Linked DNA regions of Homo sapiens. The protein of the gene in region 3 interacts with the protein of the main gene of each other region in a biochemical or structural test. Each region holds a gene or a part of one and is shown on either strand. Other genes may lie near its edges.

Region 1 (5,175 bases), on a different chromosome or scaffold from region 3:
AGTCCTGCCAGGCCGCCAGCCCAGAGCCTCCTCACCCTATCCTGTTCCTCCCACCAGGCCTGTGGCCAGTCTTCCTGATCTCCATCTTTCTGCCCTGCATACCAGCCCTCCCAGCAGCCACAAGCTTGCCCGCCCTGGCTCCCTCTGCCCAGAGACTATGGAGTAAGGCATTCAGGACAAAAGGACCAAGGGGGCGTGGACCCGTCTTGTACCAGCTGGCCACAGGCACAAGGGCTGCAGCTGCTTCTTCCAGGAAACTGACACAGGGAGCTCAGCGGCCTCAGATCCTGGGACCCCTGGGCCGTGCCTGCCCTCCACCTTGAGTGCCATACTCCCAACAGCTCCAGGTACCCACCGGGGGATGTGCCTGCTCAGGAAACCTCTTTGCTCCACACAGCATGGGGCTTCAGCTGCTGGCCCAAGGCCAGGAGCGCTGGGTTCTGCAGCAGGGCTCAGCCTCAGGGGCGTTAAGACCCTGGATGACATCAATAAAGGGACAGGAAGGGCCATGTTGCCACATGAGCAAGCTTGGGTGCTCCCAAGGTTCAAATACTTTTTATTAGACACGGCCAGGCAGAGAAGACCATGGGAGTTCCCGAGGGGCCCCAGCTTTCAAGGGCGACGGGAGAGACACAGGATAAAAGGTTAAAAGTGCAGAGGCAGAGTCTGGGGCTCAGGTTGGGTCTAGGGTGTCCTCAAACAGGCTGAGGAGGTTCCGAGGCTCAAAGGAGGGGAAGGAGCCCCGAGGAGGCTCTGAGTTGATGTCACTTAGGTCCAGGGCATCCCTGGGAGGAGAGAGTAGTGACACTCAGGATCCAAAAGCTAGCCCTGCCCACCCCAGCCCCTGGACCTGCTTACCTGGGTGTGCACCTGCTCCGGGGGGTGGAGGTGCTCCCCACAGTCCGGGCCAGGACAGCCTCAGGGGAGAGTGAAGGCCTGCAGGAGGGCAGGCGAGACAAGGAGGGTGTCCAGGGCTAGGGAGTGCCGGATGAAACCAGCTCTGTCCCTGTGCAGGCTCCAGGCTCCCGCCTGACAAACAGGCAGGGAGCCACAGTCAGGGACAATAAAAACTTGGTGCACTCTGAAAGCAGCACTTGGACAGCCTTCAAAGTCCTTCCATCTGGCTGCACTCCAAGGCCCCCTCTGTCCTTTTCAGAACACATGGACTTGGAGGCAGATTTGAAATAAACTTTTAGTAAATGTAAGCCTTTCTGGAACTTCTTGTCTGCTATCAAGTGCCCCGAGGGATGAGGTGATGTGTTTGTAAGGAAGGGGCTAACGGCAGAGTCCCCAAGAGCTGTCTGCCCTGAGCGTGTGGTTTCCTAATTACAGCCTCTCACTCAAGACACCAGGCCCCAGGGACCAAGGACTTGTTCCCAGGGCAGGGCTCCCCAGACTCCAGAGGCTTTCTCTTCCCAGAGAAGGGACAATGTTTTATCCCTGGGCACTGGCAGCCTCCACTGGGGTCGGGGCTGCGCGGCCAGCCACTCCCTGGGGTGCTGGTGCCCTAAGTGTGAAGCCATGCCCTGAACGGCCAGTCCACATGCCCAGCTGCATTAAGCCTGGCCAGGCCACACACCCCCAGTCTTGGTCCCCTTCCCCAGGATGTGATGGGGGCCAGGTTTGTGGGAGTGGTCCCCATTCACCACGAATCTCCATGGAGCCCCGGTGATATCCCCCACCTTCCCCCTAGCCCCCCATACCCTGCACTTGAACCCACCCTAGGCTGTCGTCATCCCAGTTGCTGGAGAGGCTGCTGTCCAGGAGCAAACTGCAGGGTGGTGAGCCAGGCGGGGTGGCTGGCGGGCCCAGGGGCTGTAGCCAGCTGGCAGGGTGAGCCAGCCCATGCCAGAGCCAGCAGAGCAGGGCAAGCAGGGCCTGTGGGGGAGAGGAGCTCAGGATGTGGGTGGGCGGACCCCCGGGGCTGGGGAGCAGGGCAGGCAGCCGCCACTGTCGGGAGCTTACCTGCCACAGGGCCCACCCTCGGCTCAGGGCCTCCGCTGCCATGCACCACAGCACACCCCAGGCCCGCGGCTGCCTCAACACAGGCAGTGCCAGCAGGGCCTCGGCCGTGGCCCGCAGCTTGGGGTCTGGCTCCAGCATCATGACAAGGACAGAACGCAGCTCGGAAGACAGACCTGCCCATGAGGAAGGGCCACATCGGGGTCCCAGAACACCGACTGCACCCTGAGCCCAGCAGTGCCTCCATGGCCAGCCACTATCTCCCCAGGAGCCCGTGGCAGCACCCCCTCCCGCCCTCACCTACTCACCGGCAGTGAACTCAGGGGGCAGGTAGCCCTGGCGCAGCTGCTGCCAGCCCTCCCCACCGTGGGGCAGCTCCATGTTGCATGCCACTTCCAGGATGGTGAGGCCCAGACTGGCAGGGACGGGATGGGGACAGAAAGGGGCAGGGTTGGCCCTGGGACACAGACCCAGTCCAGGGCTGCCTCTTGGAGGTGGGTGGGAGAGGGCTGCTGTCTTCATCAGTCAGGGAGGGGCGGAAGCAGGGGGAAGGGACACCCCAACAGGCCTGATCATGAACCCTGGGCAGGATGGGGACATCATGGAATATGGGCTCTGTGCCCAGGGAGCCCACAAGCCACAGTGGTGAGTCCTCCCAGTGCCCTGATGGACAGGCACCACAGTTACTGCTGGCAGGTATTACTATCCTGATGATCAGGGCAGTGGTTACCAGTGTGGACCCTGGAACCCAGCACCTAGGGCCAGTCTCAGCTATGCCACTTGCTAGCAGTGGGCTCCGGCAAGGCCCTTAATCTGGCTGTAAATGGAGTGACAATTGTTTCTCCTGTGGAGCTGTGAGGAGGCAGGTTACACAAAGTGGCTCTGGAGGGTTCGAGGCTCACAGGCAGCCTGACCAGAGACGCTCTCCACTGGAGGGCAGGGATGGCGTCTCAGCCTTGTGGCTCTGAGGCCGGGTGTCCTGGGCTAGGGTGGAGCTTCCCTCCTGGGGAATGGAGCTTCCGTCCCAGGAAGGGCCTCCCACAGCCTGCCAAACACCTGGCGTGCCCCGGTCCCCACCTGAACACATCCGCTGCTGTCCCATAGGAGCCCTGCAGCAGCTCGGGGGCCATGTAGCGGGGGTCTCCCTCCTGGACCTCACCAGCTCCTGCTGTACCCAGCTCCACCAGCAGTCCGAAGTCACCCAGCTTGCAGCGGCCCCGGGGCCCCAGGAAGATGTTGGCAGGCTTGACATCAAGGTGCACCAGGCCCTGGCTGTGCAGATGGGCCAGGGCAAGCAGCGTGTCCCGCAGGTAGCCCCAGACCTGGGCCTCAGGCAGGCTGGCACCCCAGGCCTCACAGTGTTGCTGCAGGCTGGGCCCGCACAGCTCCGTCTGCAGGTACAGGATGCCGCCCTCCTCCCAGGCCTGCTCCAGCCGCACGCAGCATGGGTGCTGCCCCACCTTCTCGTGGCTGCCCACCTCGGCCAACTTGCGGGCCCGGTCCTTGGGGCCCCGGAATGGTGACATGGAACGCTTTACCGCATAGAGCCGGCCGTCCTCCTTGGAGCGCACCTGGAAGGGAGGTGGTACCCACGCACACAGTGAGGGTGAGCCACAAGTGGCACAATCACATAGGGGGACAACCTGGCAGACCCCATTAAGGGTTCACACACGGGGCACGGTGGTGTAGCTGGCATCTGTCTCAGACCCCTGCCCAGGGTAATAACAAAACCAGACAAACCTCCATCCCTCGGGCTGGGTCTGTGGAGACCCAGCGACGGAGGAGCCAGGGCCGACCTGCACTGACCCCAGGGGACCTCTTGGATGTGTCACGAGGTGGAAAAAGCAGCTGCAGAGCAACACAGGCAGCCCAGGCTGTGGTGTGAAAAGTGGGCTCCCCTGTGAGAAAGCTGACCTGGGGGCCAATGTTGTTTGTACTTTTTAACAAAATTGTCTTCATACAGGACTCATACAAGGGAAAACTCCTCTCTAAAAGAAAATATAAATGACTGGAAACTGTGTTTAAGAAAAGCAAGATGGCAGGCAGGGGGTAGCTCAAAGCCTGCCAGCCTGGGGAGGGCTGGCCAGGCACTGCACTCAGGGCCAGTGCCAGAGGCTGGGCCGACTCGCCAAGGACGCTGCACAGCTGGCGCCAGGGCCGGAGGAGATGGCACAGGGGCTGCTGCAGGGCGTGCCAGACTCTGGACAAGGGGCCAGTATGCACAGAGCAACCCCTGGAGGGGCCTGCATTGGGGATGATGGGAGCAGCCAAGTCAAATGTGGAGGGAGCCTGTGAGCCCAGCAGGGACAGGCTGTAGGGAACGGAAGGGGATCAGGCTGCCCAGGACACTGTCCTGCCAAGGGAGGTGCAGAAACACAAAGGAGGTCCCCCAGATGGGCCTAGAAGCCGTCCCCTCACTCACCTTGAAGACCTCTCCGTAGGAGCCATGGCCCAGGCGGCTGAGCCTCTGGAAGCTCTGCTGGAAGAAGGACTCTGGCCGGCTTGGGTCATACCCAGGGCTCTGCAGAGTCTCTGAGGCCTCGCCCCGGAATGACACCCGCCGGGGCTGCAGCTGGTGCCAGCCTGGGGTCCGAGGAGGGAAGAGGCGGCTGATGGGAATGCTGCCCTTGGCAGGGGGCGGAGGTGGGAGGCTCCGGCTGAGCCCCCTGGGCCTCTTGAGGGAGAATCCAGGTTCTGCGTGGCGGAAGTAGGCTGGGACTGGGATGGGGGTGCCACTCAGAGGTGGCGGGGTGCCCTCCGTGGGCATGGGCATGGCCAGTGCAGGAGGCCCTGGGGGCAGAGACAGAGGCTGAGTACAGGGCAGCATGTCCACTCTGATACCACCTGGCCCTGTGGCTCCAAAGAGGCCACAGAAGAGAGCTATGTCTATACCACACACTTATTCTACTTTAAACGGCAATGGGAGCAATAAGCACCTACCAAGAAAAGGCAGAGGACAGATTCATACTCACCTGCCCACCAGGCTGTTGTATTTTAGAGATGATAGAAACATAAGAGGAAAACCATGGGGCCCGTGTTCTTGAGGGTCTTGCAGTCGGGTTAAGAGCAAGGCAGTTTGGAGTCAGACGGGCTGCGCCTGCATCCCTGCCCTCATCACGGCCAGCTCTTTGATCCTAAACTACACAACCTCTTCCGAGACTACACGGGCCCACGATCCCTTATCTCCAATTCCAAAGTGAAAACCCGGAATCC
Region 2 (7,036 bases), on a different chromosome or scaffold from region 3:
CTCCTTCAGTGCACCCTCCAGGGCCTTAACTCTCTCAGCCGTAGCCCTAAGTCGTTTTTCCAATTTAGGAAGCTCACAACGCAGATCTGCATTGTCACGTACCAGCTATGGGGCAAGCCAAAGGGAAGAAGTGGAAAGGAAGGCAAGTGACCCAAGACGGTCACCCAGAGGAGCGTAGGGGACAGGGGTGAGGAGAGAGAATAAAGAAAAATCAGGAGTCAGAGAAGATGGAGACCATGTCATTTCCTCAAAAGGCCTCATTGCCTTTATGTAATGGACTGTTCTGTCCAGCTCATTCCTTCTCCCAGAGCGAAGGGTGGGTGGTCAGGCATTTAAAAGTTATATAATTTTCTAGGCAGTAAAACCTGCCATCTCCACTGCAGCCCAGAACTCTTGTGAGAGCGCCTTGTCCTGTCTCCATCTGGTTTCCCCCACATCTCCCAGCATGTGCCAGATCAATAGCCCCAGGGCGGCCATGGGGATGAGGGACCCGCTTCCCCAGAGAGGGCTTTGTGGGCATGCAAAGGGTGGGGCAGCAAGGGCACAGTAGCAGTTTGGTGGCTGTGGCATTGAGGAGAATCTGTGCATGGCAGGTGCAGTGCAGAGCAGGAGCAGAAGCTGGAATTCAGGAGCCCCTGACATACACATATAGACAGGCAGAGCCCGCCCCGTAGGAAGGAAAGAAAATGTTTGAGGTCTCACAAACATTTGCACTCATTACCTTCACATTCAAGGACTTCCTGGGTTATCCCTCCCCCAGTGAAATTAAGCTAGAGCATGGGAGCAACCACCCTGCAGCCCGAAAAGACTTCCTGATCTTTTTACAGGTTCCACACAATGACTGGGGGCACTATAGGTTGCAAAAGGAGCAGGGCCTTGGAAGACAGCGGGTAAATCAGCATAGCGGGGAACACTGGGGGCTCAAGGGGACAAGCTAGAAACCCTTCCATGCAGTTTCCATTTGGACAATTTATGGAGTATAAGCAATGTTTTGCTGTGACAATACTTTAGCTTAATTGATATAGGGCTATAGTCCTGGCTGTTAAGATTCTCTTAACTGAGAAGTTTTTATCTCCTTTTCCTTTTTACTCTTGTGTCTGCTGAGGTAGGAAATTGTAGTGAGTCCTCTATTTATCCTATAGGTGAGTCATTTTTGTTTTTTTGGGACTTTGAACAGAGGCAGAGGCTTCAGTGACGATAAAGGAAACAGTGTGTGGTTGTGTTTTTTCATGGAAATTTTTCTGGGGCTTGCTCCATAGAGCAGGGCTTTCCCATAGGCAGAGAGGCCCAGAGTAGCACACACATGTGTGTGTGTGTTCTAAGCAACATAATATGGATTTGGACAGAGAGGGAAAGTGAATGCGGGAATGAAAATCGAATGGCAGAATTGATTTCAAATGTTTCCTATCTGCCTTTCAACTTTTCTATAATTTTGTTACTCAGTTTCATAATAAAGGAAATAAAATCGTAGCAAAGCCCTCTGCAGGCCTAAATAAGATAAATAAACTCTGTACATTATCACTGGGCACAGGTTTAGGATTCATTAAGAAAAAAAAAAGTACTGAATATTTACTATATAAGCTGGGCATTATACTGGGAGGAAAAGAAGTTTAAGTGCTAGGCTAGTGAGAATGTAAGTTTAAATGGAATCTTAAGGTAGATTTGAAAGGAAAGGAATGAAGTATAGGTTAGGGTTTATTTTATGAATTAGTTAAAAGGACCAGTTGACAGCCTGCCGAGCCTGTCTTCAAGGCTCAGATATTTAGTGCTAGTGAGAGTGCCCCTACCCAGCATGCACCAAACATTTCCTGTCCTGACTCCTTTGGACTGCCCTTCTGCATCCCCAGCCCATACCTTTGAAACCCAGTCATCCACCTAAAGAACCGCAACAGCAAGGAGGGGGACAGAGAGGCAGCAACTTAATACACAGGAGTTTTGACTGGGGCCCCAACCAGGGGCTGGTTGGGCCATCTTAGGGACATCATTTTTTTTTAATTGAAACAGGGTCTCACTCTGTCACCTAGGCTGGAGTGCAGTGGCATGATCACAGCTCACTGCAGCCTCTACTTCCTGCGCTCAAGCAATTGCCCTACCTCAGCCTCCCAAGTAGCTGGGACTATGGGTGTGTGCCACCACATCCGGCTAATTTTTGTATTTTTTGTAGAGATGGGGTTTCGCCATGTTGCTTAGGCTGGTCTTGAACTCCTGTGCTCAAGTGATCCGCCCGCCTCGGCTTCCTGAAGCGCTGGGACTACAGGCATGCACCACTGTGCCTAGCCAGGGACATCATTTAATGTCCCTGCATGCCTGCCACAGACCTAGACAGATGGAGTTCTCTCCACGAAAGAAGCCCAACTCCCTTGCTTCTTCTCATCTCCCTGCCTTCCATCTCTGGGTAACGTCTGACCAGTCTCCCTCCTGTATAGTTACAGCCCATGCCTCTGTTAGTTTCAACCTCTCCCTCCAAGGTAGGCCTGGGGAATTCCACTTTGAGCAGAGGTGGGTTAGAAACTTTGAGAAGGGAATACAGGCATGAAACAAAGAACAAGGTACAAGTGGACCAAATATGGTATAAAGAAGGGATTAGTAGGGAAAGTAAAAGCGAACAGTAAGGAAAACATGCAACTAGATTTTCCTGAATCCAAGGGGCCTCTGAGGATTTGGTATGCTAGCTACCCGGCCTCAAAAATTCTCTTCACTCCTTCAGCAGACTCTTACCTGTTTGTGAACCTTTGTAAGCTGTTCCAGGTTGTTCTCAAGAAAGGAAATCTTCTGCTTTTGGGAGTGAATCCCCCCACTGTCTTCGGGCTCCATTTCTGCACTCTGAGAACAGATAGAAGGAAAGACGTGGCTGTCCTGAGGCCAAACAGGTCCCACCAAGACCAGGCCAAGCCAGCCCCATAGGGGCAACAGGGGCAGGAGAAACCTAAGGATAGGAGGAGGATGTGGGGGCTGACAAAACCCCAAGGACAGCACTCACTTTCTTGACTCGAGTCGTGACGTCTTGAACGAACAGCTTGCGAAGGTTGTGGAGGGTCTGGAGTTCCCGGGCCTGGAAAGAATGATGAAAAATTGGGAATAGCCAGATACCAGGTCTGTCCTATTCCTCCAGAATTATAGGTACCTCCAGTCTCTATAATCAAGTGAGTCACTTATCCTTTAGGAAAAAATGTGTCTTGATTACGCTACAGAATGGCTGCAAAAGGGCAGGAGGAATAGGGTTAGGAAGAAATGAAGCCTCCCCACTCCCCAGTCCTGTGAATTTGGCACAGAAGGGAACCACTCACAACTGTCTCCTCCAGACCCTTGAGGTCCTGCTTGGACTGCTCATGTCGCTCGTACAGAAATCTGTAGCAAGAGAAATAAGGGAAATGGAAAGATCCCTCAGGACTCTCCTTCCTCCTGCCTCTTCCTCTATTACTTTTATCTCCATTTAAGTATTACTATTATTGTTATTTTGTGAAACAGGGTCTCATTCTGTTACCTAGGCTAGATAGAGTACAGTGGCACAATCAGGGCTCACTGCAGCCTCAACCTCCTGGGCTCAAGGGATCCTTCCCACCTCAGCCTCCCAAGCATCTGGGACCACAGACGTATGCCACCATGCCCAGCTAATTTTTGTATTTTTAGTAGAGACAGGGTTTTGCCATGTTGCCCAGGCTGGTCTCGAACTACTGAGCTCAAGCAGTCCACCTGCTTTGGCCTCCCAAAGTGCTGAGATTATAGGTGTAAGCCATCGCACCCAGCCTATTATTATTTATTACACAAGTTACTCATGTTTACTGTGCAAAAATTAGAAAAGAATTTTAAAGAGAGACATAAGGTGAGTTTTTATAAAAAGCCTATGATTCTACTATTTACAGATCAAACCAACATTAACCTTCTGGTGTCCACCTTTCTAGACTTTTTTCTATGCCTACATATCCATGTATACATTTTTATGGGATCATACCATGCATATGGTTTTGTAACCTGTTTTTACACTGAATAGAACACGTAAACCTCCTTCCATACTGGTGAATACTCAACGGCAGTCTTTGCTGAGAGTGTCCTTTTGGTCCCGTCCCTACCCCATCATATTTTTCCCATGAGTCACCCTATCATGTCTGCATGTGTGTCCTGCCTCTGCAAGCGTGTCTGAGTTCACAGTTCTGAGCCTACAAGGCTGTAGTTTTACAGGTAAATCCATGCCACTCACGTCAGCTCCTGCAGCTTGGTGCTCTTCTCGTGTTCTTCGCTCTTCAGCTTCTCGTAGTCAGCCTGAAGCTTCTCTAGCTCTAACTGGAGCTTCTGATTTAGGCTACAGAGCATCAGAAGGTAATGGAGATGGGGGAGAAAGATGTTAATGAGGGGGAAGGGAAGGCCAGCTCTTCAAACTTCTTCCTTTTTGAACGAGTGAGTCCAGTTAGAATTGATGTGTCCACCTTCAGATACCAGAGGCAGACTCAGGCCACTGTTTCCATGACAGAGCCAGGAACCCTGACCTCTCTAATCCTGGGACCCTCAAGGATAGGGACTAGTCGTTATTCCATGTGTCTCCTGAGGTGGGGCTACGAAGTTGTGGCATTGTTGAGGGAATGACACATGGATGTTAAAGAATCAGACCCAGAGGGGACATGTGAGTCAATACAGCAAGGTGACAGGACCCGGGAGGGGCTGGAGTCGCCCTTGGGAACCCTTACTCTTTGAGCTCATCAATGGTCTTCTGCTTCTCGTTGATCTCGTCCCGGAGCCGGGCCAGCTGCCGGTGATGGGCCTCCCGGTGACTCTCCATCTGCAGCTCCAGAGCCTTCTGCAAACAACCCCACCCCAAGCTCAAAGGCCAGACTCCCAGCAACAAGCTCTGTGAGGGCCAGCACAGCTTTCACCACACCAGGCCCCAATTGTCCCTGACACCTTCCTTACTCACCTTCACTTCATCTGCATCCTGAGTGTCAGGCTCCTTGTCCTTCAGGGCCACTTCATGCACAGTTTCTAAGGGAAAGAGGGGAAGACAGCTGACATCAAACCTACCTCTTTCGGAAAGAACTTCACGTTGTGACCAGAACTCCAGGCAGGGCTGGGAATGGACCCACAGGGATGTTCTTCTGTGTTAGGACTGTCCAATTTGATATAGCAGGAACAGAGAACAAGGGTGTATGGTTAATGTAAAATGAGCTACATGCAAAACCTTGGCTAACATATGAGTTGGCATCCATGATTTCAAGCTAATGCTTTGAGTGAGTGATTATTGGGGTGATTTATTTTGATGTTTCTGACTTTTCTGCCCTGGACAGTGGGATGGAGGTATAAGAAGGCCTCACCCTGGGCCTGGAGCTTGGCCAGCTCATCGCTCAAGGAGTCATAGGACTCTTCCAGGTGCCGCTTCTTTAGCTCCACGCTCTGCATGTATTCCGTAAGCGAGCGGATCTTGGCCTCATGCTGGTGGGAGAAAGTTGGTGAGAGGAAGAAGATGGAGCAAAGGACACAAACCCAGGCCACACAGATCTCCAACTCCAGCTCTCCTCCCAGCCCTCCCTCCTGCTACACTTCCCATGAGGGTGCAGGGTTGGGGGCCATTCCTATGGGGCTCTTCCTTTAGCTCCCATGGCTCAGGGGGCAGTACCCGCCCTGAGCCTTTACTTTTTTGGCCCTGATCTGCACCCCTGCCACCCCAGCTTTTCTGTCCTTGATTTCACTTGACCCCAGAACTTTGACATAAAGGTGGGTGTTAGGAGTTTTAGCCATAACCCCAGAGTAGCCTTCTTTCTCCCATGGCATCTGAAGGTTCTCAAACTTAGGCACTCACCTGAGAGATGAGGAGCTGGCAGGATGAGAGCTCCCGCCCGGTCACTTCCATCTTGCGGTGACACTCCACCTGGAGGTTCTCCAGCTGCCGGCACCGCTTGACCACAGACTTGACTTCTGATTTGATTTTGCTGATGTAGAGTCGGGCCACAGTGAACTCCTCCTCGATGGCCCCACTGATCTCCACTGGCTAAGGTGATTAAAGGAGGAAGAGATGCTTCTTGGCTGCTGGGAAGCTTTATCTGTTCCCTCCCACCTTCTACCTACCCATACACACCCACATACGCAGGGACTCAAATGGGATGGGTATTTTCCAAACGACCTTTAGCAGCTCTCTATCAGCGGCATTTCACATTAAATTCCTCCGCCTGCATTTAAAAATCCAATTCTGGCTGGGCGCAGTAGCTCATGCCTTGTAATCTCAGCACTTTGGGAGGTCAAGGTGGGTGGATCACCTGAGGTCAGGAGTTCGAGACCAGCCTGACCAACATGGTGGTGAAACCCTGTCTCTACTAAAAATACAAAATTAGCCAAGCATCATGGCACATGCCTGTAATCCCAGCTACTCAAGAGGCTGAGGCAGGAAATTGCTTGAACCCAGGAGGCGGAGGTTGCAGTGAACCGAGATCACACCACTGGACTCCAGCCTGGGCGACAGAGTGAGACTCCATCTCAAAAAAAAAAAAAAAAAATCCAATTCTGGGCCGGGCTCGGTGGCTCACGCCTGTAATCCCAACACTTTGGGAGGCCGAGGTGGGTGGACTACGAGGTCAGGAGTTCGAGACCAGCCTGGCCAATATGGTGAAACCCTCTCTCTACTAAAAACATAAAAAATTAGCCAGGAGAGGTGGTGTGTGCCTGTAGTCCCAGCTACTCGGGAGGCTGAAGCAGAAGAATTGCTTGAACCTGGGAGGCGGAGGTTGCAGTGAGCTGAGATCACACCACTGCACTCCAGCCTGGGCAACAGAGCAAGACTCCATCTCAAAAAAAAAAAAAAATCCAATTCTGACAGTCCCCCACTTACAAATAAATCTTATAAAGCAACATGATTTTCTTTTGATCTCCTTGATCACCCAGATTATTCTCACATCCACAGATTTGCATATTTCATTCTGAACTCTGTGCCTATGCCCCACCTCTAACTCCTACTGCAAGCACTGCTCTGTTGCTGCTGCTTTTTTTTTTTTTTTTTGAGACAGAGTCTCCCTCTGTCACCCAGGCTGGAGTGCAGTGCCGCATCTCTGCTCAC
Region 3 (4,185 bases):
TAAAAAAAAACAATAAATGACCAAATTCTACTTTAAGTTATTTTAGGGTTCCAACAGTCACCCATAGACTGAACAAACTCCGAAGATTTGGCTTCATGTAAGAATGTCACTGCAAAGAAGCTTCAGTACCCATTGTGATATCATTTGCTAATTTGGAGATTGTGATGCCAAAAGTATAAGCCCCATGCTCAGTCAGCATCTAGGTCCAATAGCTCTCAGAGGAACCATACATCAAAGCAAACTTTCTGCAATGCGGAAAAGAACATCCATGCATTTTTAAAATGAATTTTAAATTTTAAATAATTTTTAAAAGTGGTTTCATCTCTTGTAATGGAAAATATTCAAAATTCTCATGCTGATTCATGAAGTATACTTATATAATTAGACAAAATAAGAACATTGAAAGAAGCAGACTCCTTGTTTCATCGCTTTAAGCAAATAATAAAAATGGACTCGTGCAAGTCACACCACTAATTTAAATACATTTTGTAAAAAGATAGCAAATAAATGAAATAAAAATATTTGCTTTAGTTTTTTTAAACAAAGATTTATTAACTCTGAATTTTTTAGGTTAAGGACCATGCAATATATATCTCCTACACCGAAGTGTCCAAGAAATGTTTTTGGAGTAAATTAATGAACTGCTTTAGAATGTTGCTCAGAAATTAAGCTAGAAATTCAGAGCAATATTCTCAGGGCTTGATTTACACCAAATCCAAGTTCGCAATGTATTAACATGAAGGAATAGGCCATTGCTTTCTGAAAACCTTCCTTTTATAAAAGAAATACTTTAATATTATGAATTCTCTTGGTCTGTGTAAAATATTATTTGCATTATAAAAATTGATTTTTTGGTATAATTGTTCATAGGCAATATTTTCACCAGGATGGGTTCACAAGTGTTAATGGAAGGCGAATTATGTGTGGGACAGTCTTCTAGGGAATATGTGAGGGGTTTTTAAGATGGATAACATTTTGTACCTGCTTTTGAGTTGCAAATGATCTGGACTGTTGGTTAAACATCGCAGACAAGATCAGGTGAAGAACATTACTAGAAGTTCAGTGATTAAGAAATAAAGCCACGTACCCCACGGAGTGAAATTTGAATTCCTTAAATTCCCTCAAATTATTTTATGTTGGATTTTACACCAGGATAGGAATGTCTTTAAAAGTAAGAAATATTTGACATAAGGTAGAAAATTTCAAAGGAGTGTTTGACTTGTTGCTGGATGTGTCACCACATTTCATGTGTCTGAGAAATATAAATTTCTACAGCACATTTTTAGTGCCTTAAACAGACTACAATGATGTAAATGGTTGAACAGTTGAAATTTAGTCTGGAACTGGGACAGATGACTTGCCACATAGAGTGGCTCCCAACATAAAGTGATCTGTGATGGCAGGACTTTCAGCGTGTTTCACTATTAGCATGTGTCATCCAAGCATGCCTTTCAACATCTGTGGAGAAAAGACATGTTACAAATACAAAACACCACCATGATGAATTGGGAATGTCAAAAACCTCTGCCTTGGCTGTGATCCAGTGTTGTTATTGGCAAGTAGATTCATCCTTCTAGGTTGGTTGCTCCATAAGTAATCTTCAAGAAAAGCAAGTCCAACACCCTTTTTTCTCCTTACTGTGAACTTGGTCAAAATTACCAAATGTTTGGTAACCATTTATGGTATCAGGAATGCACCAATAACTCCTTCTGACTCTTTAAGAGCAATCATCTTGTGGAATGCAATTTCCCTTCTTATTATTGTGGGTATTTTTAGGTACCTATGCTTGACCTTTTTTAAAGAGAGTAAGGATCTGTGATTTAAACTAGGATAGAAGCTGTTCCAGAGATAACAAAAAGCTGTTGCTTTCTATATTCCAACAGGAACTAGGTAAAACGATAAATGTGATAACTCAAAATAATGTGTATGTTTATCTTCCAGGCTTTCTAATAGTTAATTGGTTAAATAAAACATTATTTACAGAAATAGAAGAGCCACTCCTCAACTGTTCAAACACTGCAAAGTAAACTAATGCAAGTGCAGTGACCTCTTCATCCAGCCACAAAATCATATATATTTTTAATTCTCCAAGGAGTTTGAGATAGTAAAGTTGGATATCATGTAGCTAAACAAAGGCTTTTACCTTTTCTCTTGGAAAATAGTTAAAATGAATAGAAATCTGATAATTAATCTGGGAAATTTAACCCTGCTCTACTTACCTAATGCCCCCCCAAAAGATGATCTTTTTTTTCTTCATTGATTTTATACCTTAAAAAGAAATTACTGAATTGCAGATATACAACTAGTATCTACAGACAGAAATGAAGGTCAGTTTTAGAAGAAACCAGTGTCAAATGAAAACACAGATTTCTACATGGTCACATTCATATCACACACTCTTGACCCAAGGTGAGAAAGTAGGTCATTCCTTATTTCTTATTTATTCCCTGGCACAATCAGACCACACTACAAGTTTCTTTTACCAGTTGCCAAAATGAAATCATGACACCCTTCAGAGCTACTGTCGTTACATGCAACTCAAGACAACGAGCAGCATCATAACCATTGTCAACAGGCAAACTCCAACAATGTCTGGGTTTGGATTTGGTTTTATGTTGAGAGAAGCAGATTTCCTCTGATTTTAATAATCCATAAGAAACAGAAATCATAATATATTGACTCCATATTACCTAAAAAGAGTCAAAAGAAGCAGAAGTTCTCCCCCGATTCATCCTCTTGTTCCACAGACATTTTGAAAATAAAAGAAGACAAAATAGAAAGGAAAGGGTGTGAGAAAGAACACAGAAATGACTTGAACGATTTCAAATCCTTATTAAGCATCACTGAGGTTGCATTTTACCCATTAGACTGACTGAATTTAGTTCTCACTGCTCAGACCTTGCAAAGAAACTGGACGTACATGGTTTTGCCTTCCAGGGTTGATCTAGAACTGTAAGGGTGCATGTGAATGTGGGTATGCATGTGTGTGTGCTTTAAGTCCATTTTATAAACACTGACACAAGACAATTCTCATCATTGGTAATAGTCTTTGGAGTCCAATCATGCAGAAAAACAGGCAGGTGCAAGTTAGGTCTCATTGCAAGATGGACATGGCAAGGTGAACAGATAATCCTACATAAGGATTGGGAGATTTGTGTCCATTAGAATATACTGGCCATTGGTCCCACATAAGTAAAGTTACATATACAAGATTCTATATATAAACAGAGGCCCCTCACTTCAGTTTGGCTGACCAAAGAAACAGGTCAAAGTGAGCCATTTTCAGATAGTTAAAGGACTAAGTACCAAAAGAAATAACAAAATCTTATCCTCTAATCACAAAGAAAATAGCTAAAATAACTATTTACATTGCAACTTTTTTGTTGTTTTTACAGAGAGGAGTTTCCTTGCTTGGCTTAATGATATCTGTGGAAAATGTTGAACTCTTATAATTAAAATGTGTGTGGGGGATTGTGAGTGGGGAGTTGGGTTCCTCTTTGGATGCAAAGTGGCTGAGATCAAAAATTTCTAGAGCAATTTTACTCCTCTTTCTGAGCTGTAGAAGAATACATTTTTCAGCAAAGCTGGCTAATAACATGCCTTACAGAGCATAATGCACTTAAGATGTGGCTTTTCATATGTTAAGAGATTCAAATCGAAATAGATTTTGTATAATTTAGGTTTTGCAATGAATATTTACAATTTTAAAACAAATCAAGTTTGCTTATTTTTTTTTCCTTGACAGGACATAAAAGGTTTTACATATTTTTATCTATTTTTTACTAGTTCCATTTACTAAGGCCAACTTTCAGTTTTACCAGTCAGCTGCTATCAGTGTCTTTAGATAATATTTTTCTGATAACAGATTGAAAAAACTATCGAGCTTCTTAACCCTCAATTAAATAGCTTACTCCAATTGGTGGGAACTGGCCAGGCTCTGGTCCAACTGTTGGGTACATTCCTACAAAACTCAGTCATCAGATTCTTGAAGATGAAAGGTTATTATCAGTTTTTATTCCACAAGAAGAAATTCCGTTGTAAGGCTAGTGTATTCCTATTTAAAATTGAACACGCTGACCCACAAAACACATATAAAAATAGTAAAGACATATTAATAGTAAAGTGGTGGCGGTTTTGCCAAACTCTTGCAGCAGTTTAATTTTCCCTGCACATGAGTACACAGCC
Region 4 (7,182 bases), on a different chromosome or scaffold from region 3:
CTGCGAGTGGCGCTCCTCCAGCCGCAAGCTGCGCTCAAAGTCCAGCAACTGCCCCATGAAGTTGAAGTTGGGGGAGATGTTAGACTTCTTCCTCTTGACCAGGTCATAGGCATCGTTGAGAGAGAGGTGGAGCTTCTGCATGAGGTAGGCCACAGTGACGGTGACAGAACGGCTGACCCCCGCCAAGCAGTGGACGAGCACCCCGCAGTTCTGGGACAAGGCCTCATCTAGATGGGGCAGGAAAGGGCCCGGGAGACCCGGAGGGCAGGCGTGTGTGAGGCCGAGGCCTTCCGAAGGGCCCTCAAAGGCCCCGCCCTGCCCCCTGGGCCAGATGGCCACGACCTGCAGGTTTCTCTAGTGGCCTCTGGGGGCCGCCCTAGCTCTGCCTGTCCCCTAGAACTGTCACCTAGGCTTTTGGCTCTGGGAATGGCAGCGGGGCTTGGGAGGAGTACTCACAAGGGGGAGGCCAGAGCAGGCCTTGGGGAGGACAGGAGGGAAGGGTGGGTGGGGTGGACTCACCAATGAACTCAATGGCCTCCGGAAAGAACCGCGACAGGTTCTGGCTCCAGTGGTCGGAGATGGGGATCTGCTTGTAGTGAAAGTCACCATTCTTCTCGAAGAAGTTTGGGAGGTTGGGGGTGACATTGAGGATGTAGCGGATGCCCAGTTTGGCCAGGCTCTCCAAATTGGCGGAATCCCGGGCACTGCCCAGATAGAGGTTGGGCAGGATCTGGACAGGGAAGGATGCCCGCAGCCCCACTGGTGGGGGTGTGGCACCCTCCGAATCCAGGCCACAGCTCATGGAGTCGCGGTCAGCCTCGGATTCCGCATCAGAGCAGTCGGAGCCCAGGCACAGGCTGCCCAACCCCACCACGGGCACTGGACCGGGCACCGGCGCCATGCTGGAGCCGGCACGGCCAGCAAGGCTGGTCTCACACAGGTGAGGGCACTCGGCCTGGAATCTGCTGAAGCCTCCTGTTGGGGAGAGGGCATGGGGCCTGCTGACCTGGCCTTCTGGGCAGCCAAGTGCCTCTGTCTGGGGCTGGGGAGATGACCCTGGACAACTTGGAGGGTTTGCAAATGTTCCCAAAGGGAACACAAAACCCAGCAGCTTGGTGTGTCCTGGTACCCACGTGGGGCCCTAGCCACCCTCAGTCAGCTCGGGCTGCAAGAAGCTGGGCTCACGCTGAGCCACCGGAAAGGATCTTACACCCCTAGGGTCAAGCTGAGGCAGGTGTGAGGGCTCAACAGAGCCGAGATGCACTGCCAGCCTTAGGGAGGACTGCGGCCATCAGCTAAAGAAAAGGAGGAACTCAGATGTCAGCTCTCTGCCTGGGCATCTCCTGACTCTCAGGGATGAAGTGGGACCCCAAGATGTGGGGGAACTTGGGGGAGAATATGGCTCAAGAAGCCAGCATCTCTATTTACAGATACTATTTCCCCGGGCTGGACACCTGACACTTTATATGCTGTTCGGGAGGCTAAGGCAGGAGGATCGCTTGAGCCCAGGAGGCTTCAGTGAGCCGTGATTGCACCAGTGCTGTCTGACCCCTGCCTCCCTTGCTCATTCCTGAGCAGGTTGGGGAGGTGGGGATACCCTTGCCGAGACCCTGGGGAGCCCGCACTTTGTAATTCGTTCTTGAGCATCCTGAGAACTAGCTCAGGTCAGGCTAATTCTCCCCATTTTCCAGGCTCAGAGACTGGGCTGCCGAGGGTGAAGAACTTCCCCACGGTCACACTCAGGCTTCCCTCCTCTCAAAGCAGCCTGGCAGGTCATCAGGGGAGGGGGGCCTCAACTCGCTTTAGAAAAAAAGAAGTGGGGCTGGCCTAAGGTCAAATGAATCCCGAACCCCCTGGAAGGAGGGCCCCGCGGCACCTACCCTGGAGGTAGTAGGCCAGGTAGCCTTCCTCTCGCAGCTTCTGCAGCAGGGTGCCCAGCACCGACTCGGCCTCCCACTCCTCGGCCTCGGCCTCGGCCTCCCCGCGCCGGCGCCGGCCCCCGCCCTGGTCGTACAGGAGCACGGGGGCAGGCGGGGGCGGCTGCAGCGGCGGCCCAGGCAGGAGCGCGCGCACCGACAGGCTGCCCCTCCGCAGGCGGCGCAGCAGGAGCGCCGGCAGGGCCACGCTCAGCGCCCCACCGATGCGCGCCGACTCGTACAGCTCGCGGCTGCGGCAGTCCAGGAGCAGGAGCCGCGGCCGCGGGGGCGACAGCTCCCGACGCAGCCACAGGCACGAGCGGCCCAGACCCTCCATGGGCGATCGGCTCCCTACACGCTGGACCACGGGCGCTGCGAAGAGAGAGAAGGCGCGGTGTGAGCTACCGGAGGGCCGAGGGGGCTCAGACTTGAAGCCGGCCCCGCGTCCTGAAGGCGGGAGCCCAGGGTCCCCCACCATGAGGACTCCCAACAAGGCGCCCCAAGAAACCCCCCAGGCAGCAGCTCGGCCCGGGGAAGGGTCCTCGAGAAGAGGGCTGAGCGGCTAACCGCCCCTTCGAGGCTCATCTTGGGGTACCCTGAGGTCGCAGCCGCCTCCCTCCATACCCCCTTTCTGCTCCTGTCTCGGTCTTCTCGCGAACGCTCCCCAAGTTCGAGCTTCCGACTCTGGCTGGGGGTGTGCGTGCGAGGAGTGCCGTTCGAGGCCTAGATCTCCCCCAGGGCCAGGTGGGCCAGGGGAACAGAGGAGGCGCCGAGGTGCTGGGCCTCAGCGAGTCCTCTCAGAGGTGGTCTGGCCCCCGGTCCCCCATCTCCCCCTACCCCTAGGAGAGAACAAAAGGAAAGAGACCTGGAGCGAGATCCGGCGGTGGACGACCGCGCGTGGACGTTCTGGCCACGGCCACTGCCACGGCGGAACGCGAGGCGCCGTCCCGCGGCAGAGAGTCCCCAGGCCTGGCCGCCAGGAGAGGGCGGGGCGGCGGTGCAGGCTCGCACGTGGAAGCCGAGCCCCGCGCAGCCCGCGCAGCCCGCGCACCGGCCGCTTCCTGGCAGCCGGACCCAGCTTCCACCTTGGAAACTGCCTTCGGACGTGGAGTTACAACTCCGAGGGGCGGGCCGGGGCGGGGCTCCGGGGGCGGGCCCGGCGGGCCGGTGAGCCAACGGGTGCTAGCCGAAGCAGTCGGGTGGGACCTGCGAGTCGGCTGAGCTGGGGCTTCCACCGAGGCGGGACGGGGTCGGGGCAGAGGCCAAGGGCAGGTCAGGGGCCCAGCAGGGGACCAGCTGCGGCTCCCCTGGCCGGCGCCAGCCTGGCCTCGGGAGGCAGGGGGAGGGGTGAGGACCAGAGCCCAGCCCCTCTGCCGCAGAAGCTGCCTCCAGCCCAACTCACAGGGTGATACTGGAGCATCTTCTCCCCTGCCTGGATCTCAGTGGCCCCATCTCTGTAATGGGCTCAGAGCTAGCAGCTTGGGCAAACTTGGGATGCCACCGAAATCACGGAGGGGAGGAGGAGGCAGGACCAGAAACTTAGTGCAGCTTTGGCCCAGAGGTCTGCTGCAGGGCTAGGCAGGCAGGGGTAGCTCCTGGATACCTACCAATACCAGCCCGCTTCACTCGCACAGGACTGGCCAAAAGCACCCAGGAACCCTGAGCTCCCAGCCCTAAACTGGGGCACTCTGCTCTTATCACATTACTGATCCTAAGAGTCACCCGTGGCTCCCCCCTCTGCCTCCTTCCCTTAACCCCCCTTCGGCTAATCAAAGTGGAAAGAACTAGTTTCTACCTAAATATCTCTCACATCCACGCCTCTCTCCCCTGTCCCTTGCCCTAGCCGAGGGCTCAAATTCATCAGCTTTAGGCCAGGTCACTGTCACGTCTTGCACAACAGTCTCCCTGCCTCCGGGCCTGCAACGACCTGCCCTCCACCCTGCCCTGCCCAGCCCTGCCCAACGTCAGAATGCCATCCACTCAACCAAGGCTGGTGGCCTCCATCCTTTCCTCCATGGGCACAACAGGCGGGACAGATCCACAGGCAGCAAGAGCACTGGACAAGGTCTCAGGTGTGGTGAGCACTGAGGCAGGAGACCAGGGTCAGGGGGAGGTGTCCACAATGCTGATCTGGCTAAAAGTCCCTTCTCTGCTTAAAGCTCAACAAAAGCAAATAACAGTGTTGAAGGAAAATGTACGCCAGATAAGATAAAGCTCATACCCAACTAAAAGGTTAAGACCCCTGTAGATAAATGGGCAAAGAACCTGAAAACACTGCATACTGCAGGAAGGAGGGAATGCGGTGGCCTAACAAATATTTGGGGGAAGGTTCAACTTCAGGCGTGGAAGGAAAGCCACTCCAATAAACAAGTAACAATGACCAACGAGGTAACACTTCCCACCTACTGCATTAGAAATGTTCTCATTTTTGAGAACACGCAGTGCTGGCAAGATTGCTGTGAAATCAGCGTGCTGTTCAACTGTTGCAGGGTTATATATTGGTACGGCCCCTTTGGAAATTAATCTGGCAATATCAAGAGCTAGGAAAAAATCCCAACCCTTTGACCACTTTTGGGAATCTAAGGAACTAAAGTAAAAGAAAGCAAAGTTATGCACACGAGGATGGGCACCACAAAGCATTTTTCTAACAAGTGGAAAATGCAAAGCAAACTACGAGTCTAAAGACTCCTCTCAGGAGCCATGGAGTTAGAGGAGAAAATGTCTCAGGTCATGGTTAGGTAAGAGGGCAGGTGACGGAAAGCTAGGTGGGTCACCTCTAAGGGGCTTCCAGTTTGCCTCTCTCCCTCCCTTTCGGGCAGTGGGCTGCTAGCCGGGGACTCCCAGGACCCTGGCACTGGGCTGCTTTCCGGCCACACCCCCCATGTCCCTGCGTCTAACAAGAGTCCTAATTCCTGCATCCAAGGGCTTTGGGCAGCTGGACTGTGCCCTTCCTTCTCTCACCCAGTGGGCAAGGGCCCCAGCCCAGGCCTCCCTCCTATGCCCCCTGCCCAGATTCTGAGATTCTGCTCATTCTTCAGGCCCCCTCCTCCAGGCAGCCTTCCCAACTCGGAGCCAGTAGTCTCCCTCCTCTGTGCTCCCTAGTGTGGTCACTTTCCCCCTTTCTCAGTGTGTTCCTGGGGCAGGGACTTTGTCTTCTGTTTTCTGTCCACAGCCTAGCTCCACAGTGGTGGAGGTGGACACCGGCACCCAGCCTGGGGGCTGCCTCCAGGCCCACTGCAGCTGTGGGTGGGAGCTCAGAGTGGGCAGGGGTTGAAGGCACCACGGAGGTTCTGCCATGTGCCAGTCTTGTTGTGGAGAGTGGGGGTGGCGCAGGGCTGTGACCAGCAGGGAGCTGGACAGCCACTTCCCCGGCCCGCCCTGCCGTGGGGGCTCAGTTCGGCTAGAGAGGGAGCTCCTGAGCTGCTCAGTGGCGCTCTCTGGAGAGGGTTCCCTGGAGGTGAGAGGAGCTGGGCTGGAATGAGGACGGGGAGAGGCAACCTCCGCAATGGGGAAGGGAGGGGAAGCCTAGGATCCAAGGGTCCACGTCTCCCGACGCTTGGCGAGGGGCTCCCCTGCACCTAACTGCGGAGCCCTGCTGCCAAGTCCTCGCACCGGGAGAAAGCATTTGGGAGGAGGCCATGAGGGGCTCAATTTCCAAAGTCAGAGCTCAGTGCTCGGGGCCCACAGCGCCCGCAGCGCCAGCAACAGGACAAATGGGAACCTGTTGCCACCTCCGCACTGCAGGGCTGAGCGCAGCCAACCCCCTAATCCCCCTCTCACCCGCGACCCTCGCCGGGCCGCCCCCACTCAGGCCCCCTGTAGCGCCGGCTCTGGGCGCCGCCCCGCCGGCAGCCGCTCCCGGGTGCGCTGTGCTGGGGGAGGCCGCGCCGCGCGCCCGGGCCTCGTCTGGCCCCCTCCGGCGGGCTGAGCCAGGCCGCGCGCTCGCTGCCCGCCGCAGGGTGGGCGCTGCGCCTGCCGCCCCCGCCCCCGCCCCCGCACCCGCCCCCGCCGGGCGCCCCGGGCCTCCGCCGGGCCGGGCCAGCGCCCCCTGGAGGCCGCGGGGACGCCGCCGCCTGCAGGCCTCGCGCGCGCCGCGTGCGCCCTCTGGTCCCGGGAGCCTCCCGAGAGCGGCGCCGCGCCGCCTTCCCCCACGAGATGCACCGTTCCCGCCGGGCCGAGTGACAGGATTTCGGCTGTCGCGGCCGGGTCACATGGCCAAGAGCACAAGTCCCGGCGACAGCGTGCCTGCCAAATCCAGTGTCTTTTCCACCAAATCCACTTTCTGCTGGGGATGGCTTTCTGCTTTTCCTGGTCGGTCTCCTCGCGGGACTGGGAGTTCCTCCAAGGCAGGAACGGGTGTGTGCCCGGCCCCAGGCTGGCCCCAGCCCCCAGTGCAGGGCCTGGCACGCGCCCGGCGCTCGCGGAAGAAATGCTCGTTAACAAAGAAGGCATGAATGAATGAAACCAATTGTTGCCTGAGGGAGCTGCTCCTGCTTTTCCTTCTGCCGATCACACACTCCTCCCCCACCCCGACACGCACAAGCACACGTGCACACACAGCCCTCCCCGTAACACACACGCAGGCAGGCACCCAGACAGCGCGCGCGGACGCCAGCCCCCATGGAACCCACCTACTACGTGCTTGCCGGGCAGCTGGCGCCCCTTTGGTCCCACCTGGGCCGCCTCCATTTCAGCGCCGGGCTCTCTCCGCCGCCTCCCCGCCCCTCCCCGGGGCCCCTTGCTTCCACATCTAAGTACCCTACCTTGGACCCCAAAGTGCCTTCTTTATTTCTTAGGGAAGAGGCCAAGCTAGTCGCTGGGGAGTCTCAAGGTCTGTTTAGGGAGGCACCTGGGGGGCCCAAGGCTGCTGAGCCTCTGCCGAAGGGGAGCCAGAGGTGCCTGGCAGGGATGCCACCAAATGCTGCAGCCTCTAGAGCCCGCGTGCCAGGTGTTGGGGGTGAGGGAGGGAGGGACTCAGAGATGTGCTGGGGGGTGTCGAAGGCTATTTGTGATGGGGGCGGGGCAGGATGCTGGAGAGCGTGAATCCAGCAGGTGTGCGCGCGTGCTGGGGTGGATGAGAGTGCGCGTTGGAGATGCTGGAGGTGTGTGCCTGGGACGTGGGGAGCGTCAGCCACTGGGATGTGGGTTTCTGACGGGACCTCGCTCCAGGATGGGTGGACTGCAGTGTCTCTGGGCTGGCAACGTGGGTGGGGTGTCTGTAATGGGCAGATGGGGAGTTCGAGGTGGTGGGGGCATGGTAGGGGGA

The links.
Region 1: the proteins of MAPK10 (region 3) and PKMYT1 form a complex in vitro, tested with the Homo sapiens proteins (one study listed by BioGRID).
Region 2: of the proteins of MAPK10 (region 3) and KIF5A, one has a biochemical effect on the other in vitro, tested with the Homo sapiens proteins (one study listed by BioGRID).
Region 4: the proteins of MAPK10 (region 3) and DUSP9 form a complex in vitro, tested with the Homo sapiens proteins (one study listed by BioGRID).

Annotation. Positions count from the first base shown.
Region 1 is NC_000016.10:2,972,280-2,977,454, forward strand, and holds the end of PKMYT1 (membrane-associated tyrosine- and threonine-specific cdc2-inhibitory kinase), read right to left. Parts: exon of another isoform or gene 4,790-5,175; coding exon of another isoform or gene 4,753-4,789; coding exon 4,385-4,752; intron 3,534-4,384; coding exon 3,040-3,533; intron 2,378-3,039; coding exon 2,271-2,377; intron 2,139-2,270; coding exon 1,966-2,138; intron 1,879-1,965; coding exon 1,721-1,878; intron 1,206-1,720; exon of another isoform or gene 975-1,205; coding exon of another isoform or gene 937-974; coding exon 859-936; exon of another isoform or gene 786-858; coding exon 674-785; 3' UTR 529-673; downstream 1-528. UniProt on the Homo sapiens protein: Acts as a negative regulator of entry into mitosis (G2 to M transition) by phosphorylation of the CDK1 kinase specifically when CDK1 is complexed to cyclins. Mediates phosphorylation of CDK1 predominantly on 'Thr-14'. Also involved in Golgi fragmentation.
Region 2 is NC_000012.12:57,574,025-57,581,060, reverse strand, and holds part of KIF5A (kinesin heavy chain isoform 5A), read right to left. Parts: intron 5,978-7,036; coding exon 5,789-5,977; intron 5,422-5,788; coding exon 5,304-5,421; intron 4,975-5,303; coding exon 4,910-4,974; intron 4,793-4,909; coding exon 4,683-4,792; intron 4,301-4,682; coding exon 4,199-4,300; intron 3,349-4,198; coding exon 3,288-3,348; intron 3,053-3,287; coding exon 2,981-3,052; intron 2,824-2,980; coding exon 2,719-2,823; intron 106-2,718; coding exon 1-105. UniProt on the Homo sapiens protein: Microtubule-dependent motor required for slow axonal transport of neurofilament proteins (NFH, NFM and NFL). Can induce formation of neurite-like membrane protrusions in non-neuronal cells in a ZFYVE27-dependent manner.
Region 3 is NC_000004.12:86,009,874-86,014,058, forward strand, and holds the end of MAPK10 (mitogen-activated protein kinase 10), read right to left. Parts: 3' UTR 532-4,185; downstream 1-531. UniProt on the Homo sapiens protein: Serine/threonine-protein kinase involved in various processes such as neuronal proliferation, differentiation, migration and programmed cell death.
Region 4 is NC_000023.11:153,643,025-153,650,206, reverse strand, and holds the start of DUSP9 (dual specificity protein phosphatase 9), read right to left. Parts: upstream 3,005-7,182; 5' UTR 2,782-3,004; intron 2,289-2,781; coding exon of another isoform or gene 2,254-2,288; coding exon 1,881-2,253; intron 976-1,880; coding exon 520-975; intron 228-519; coding exon 1-227. UniProt on the Homo sapiens protein: Inactivates MAP kinases. Has a specificity for the ERK family.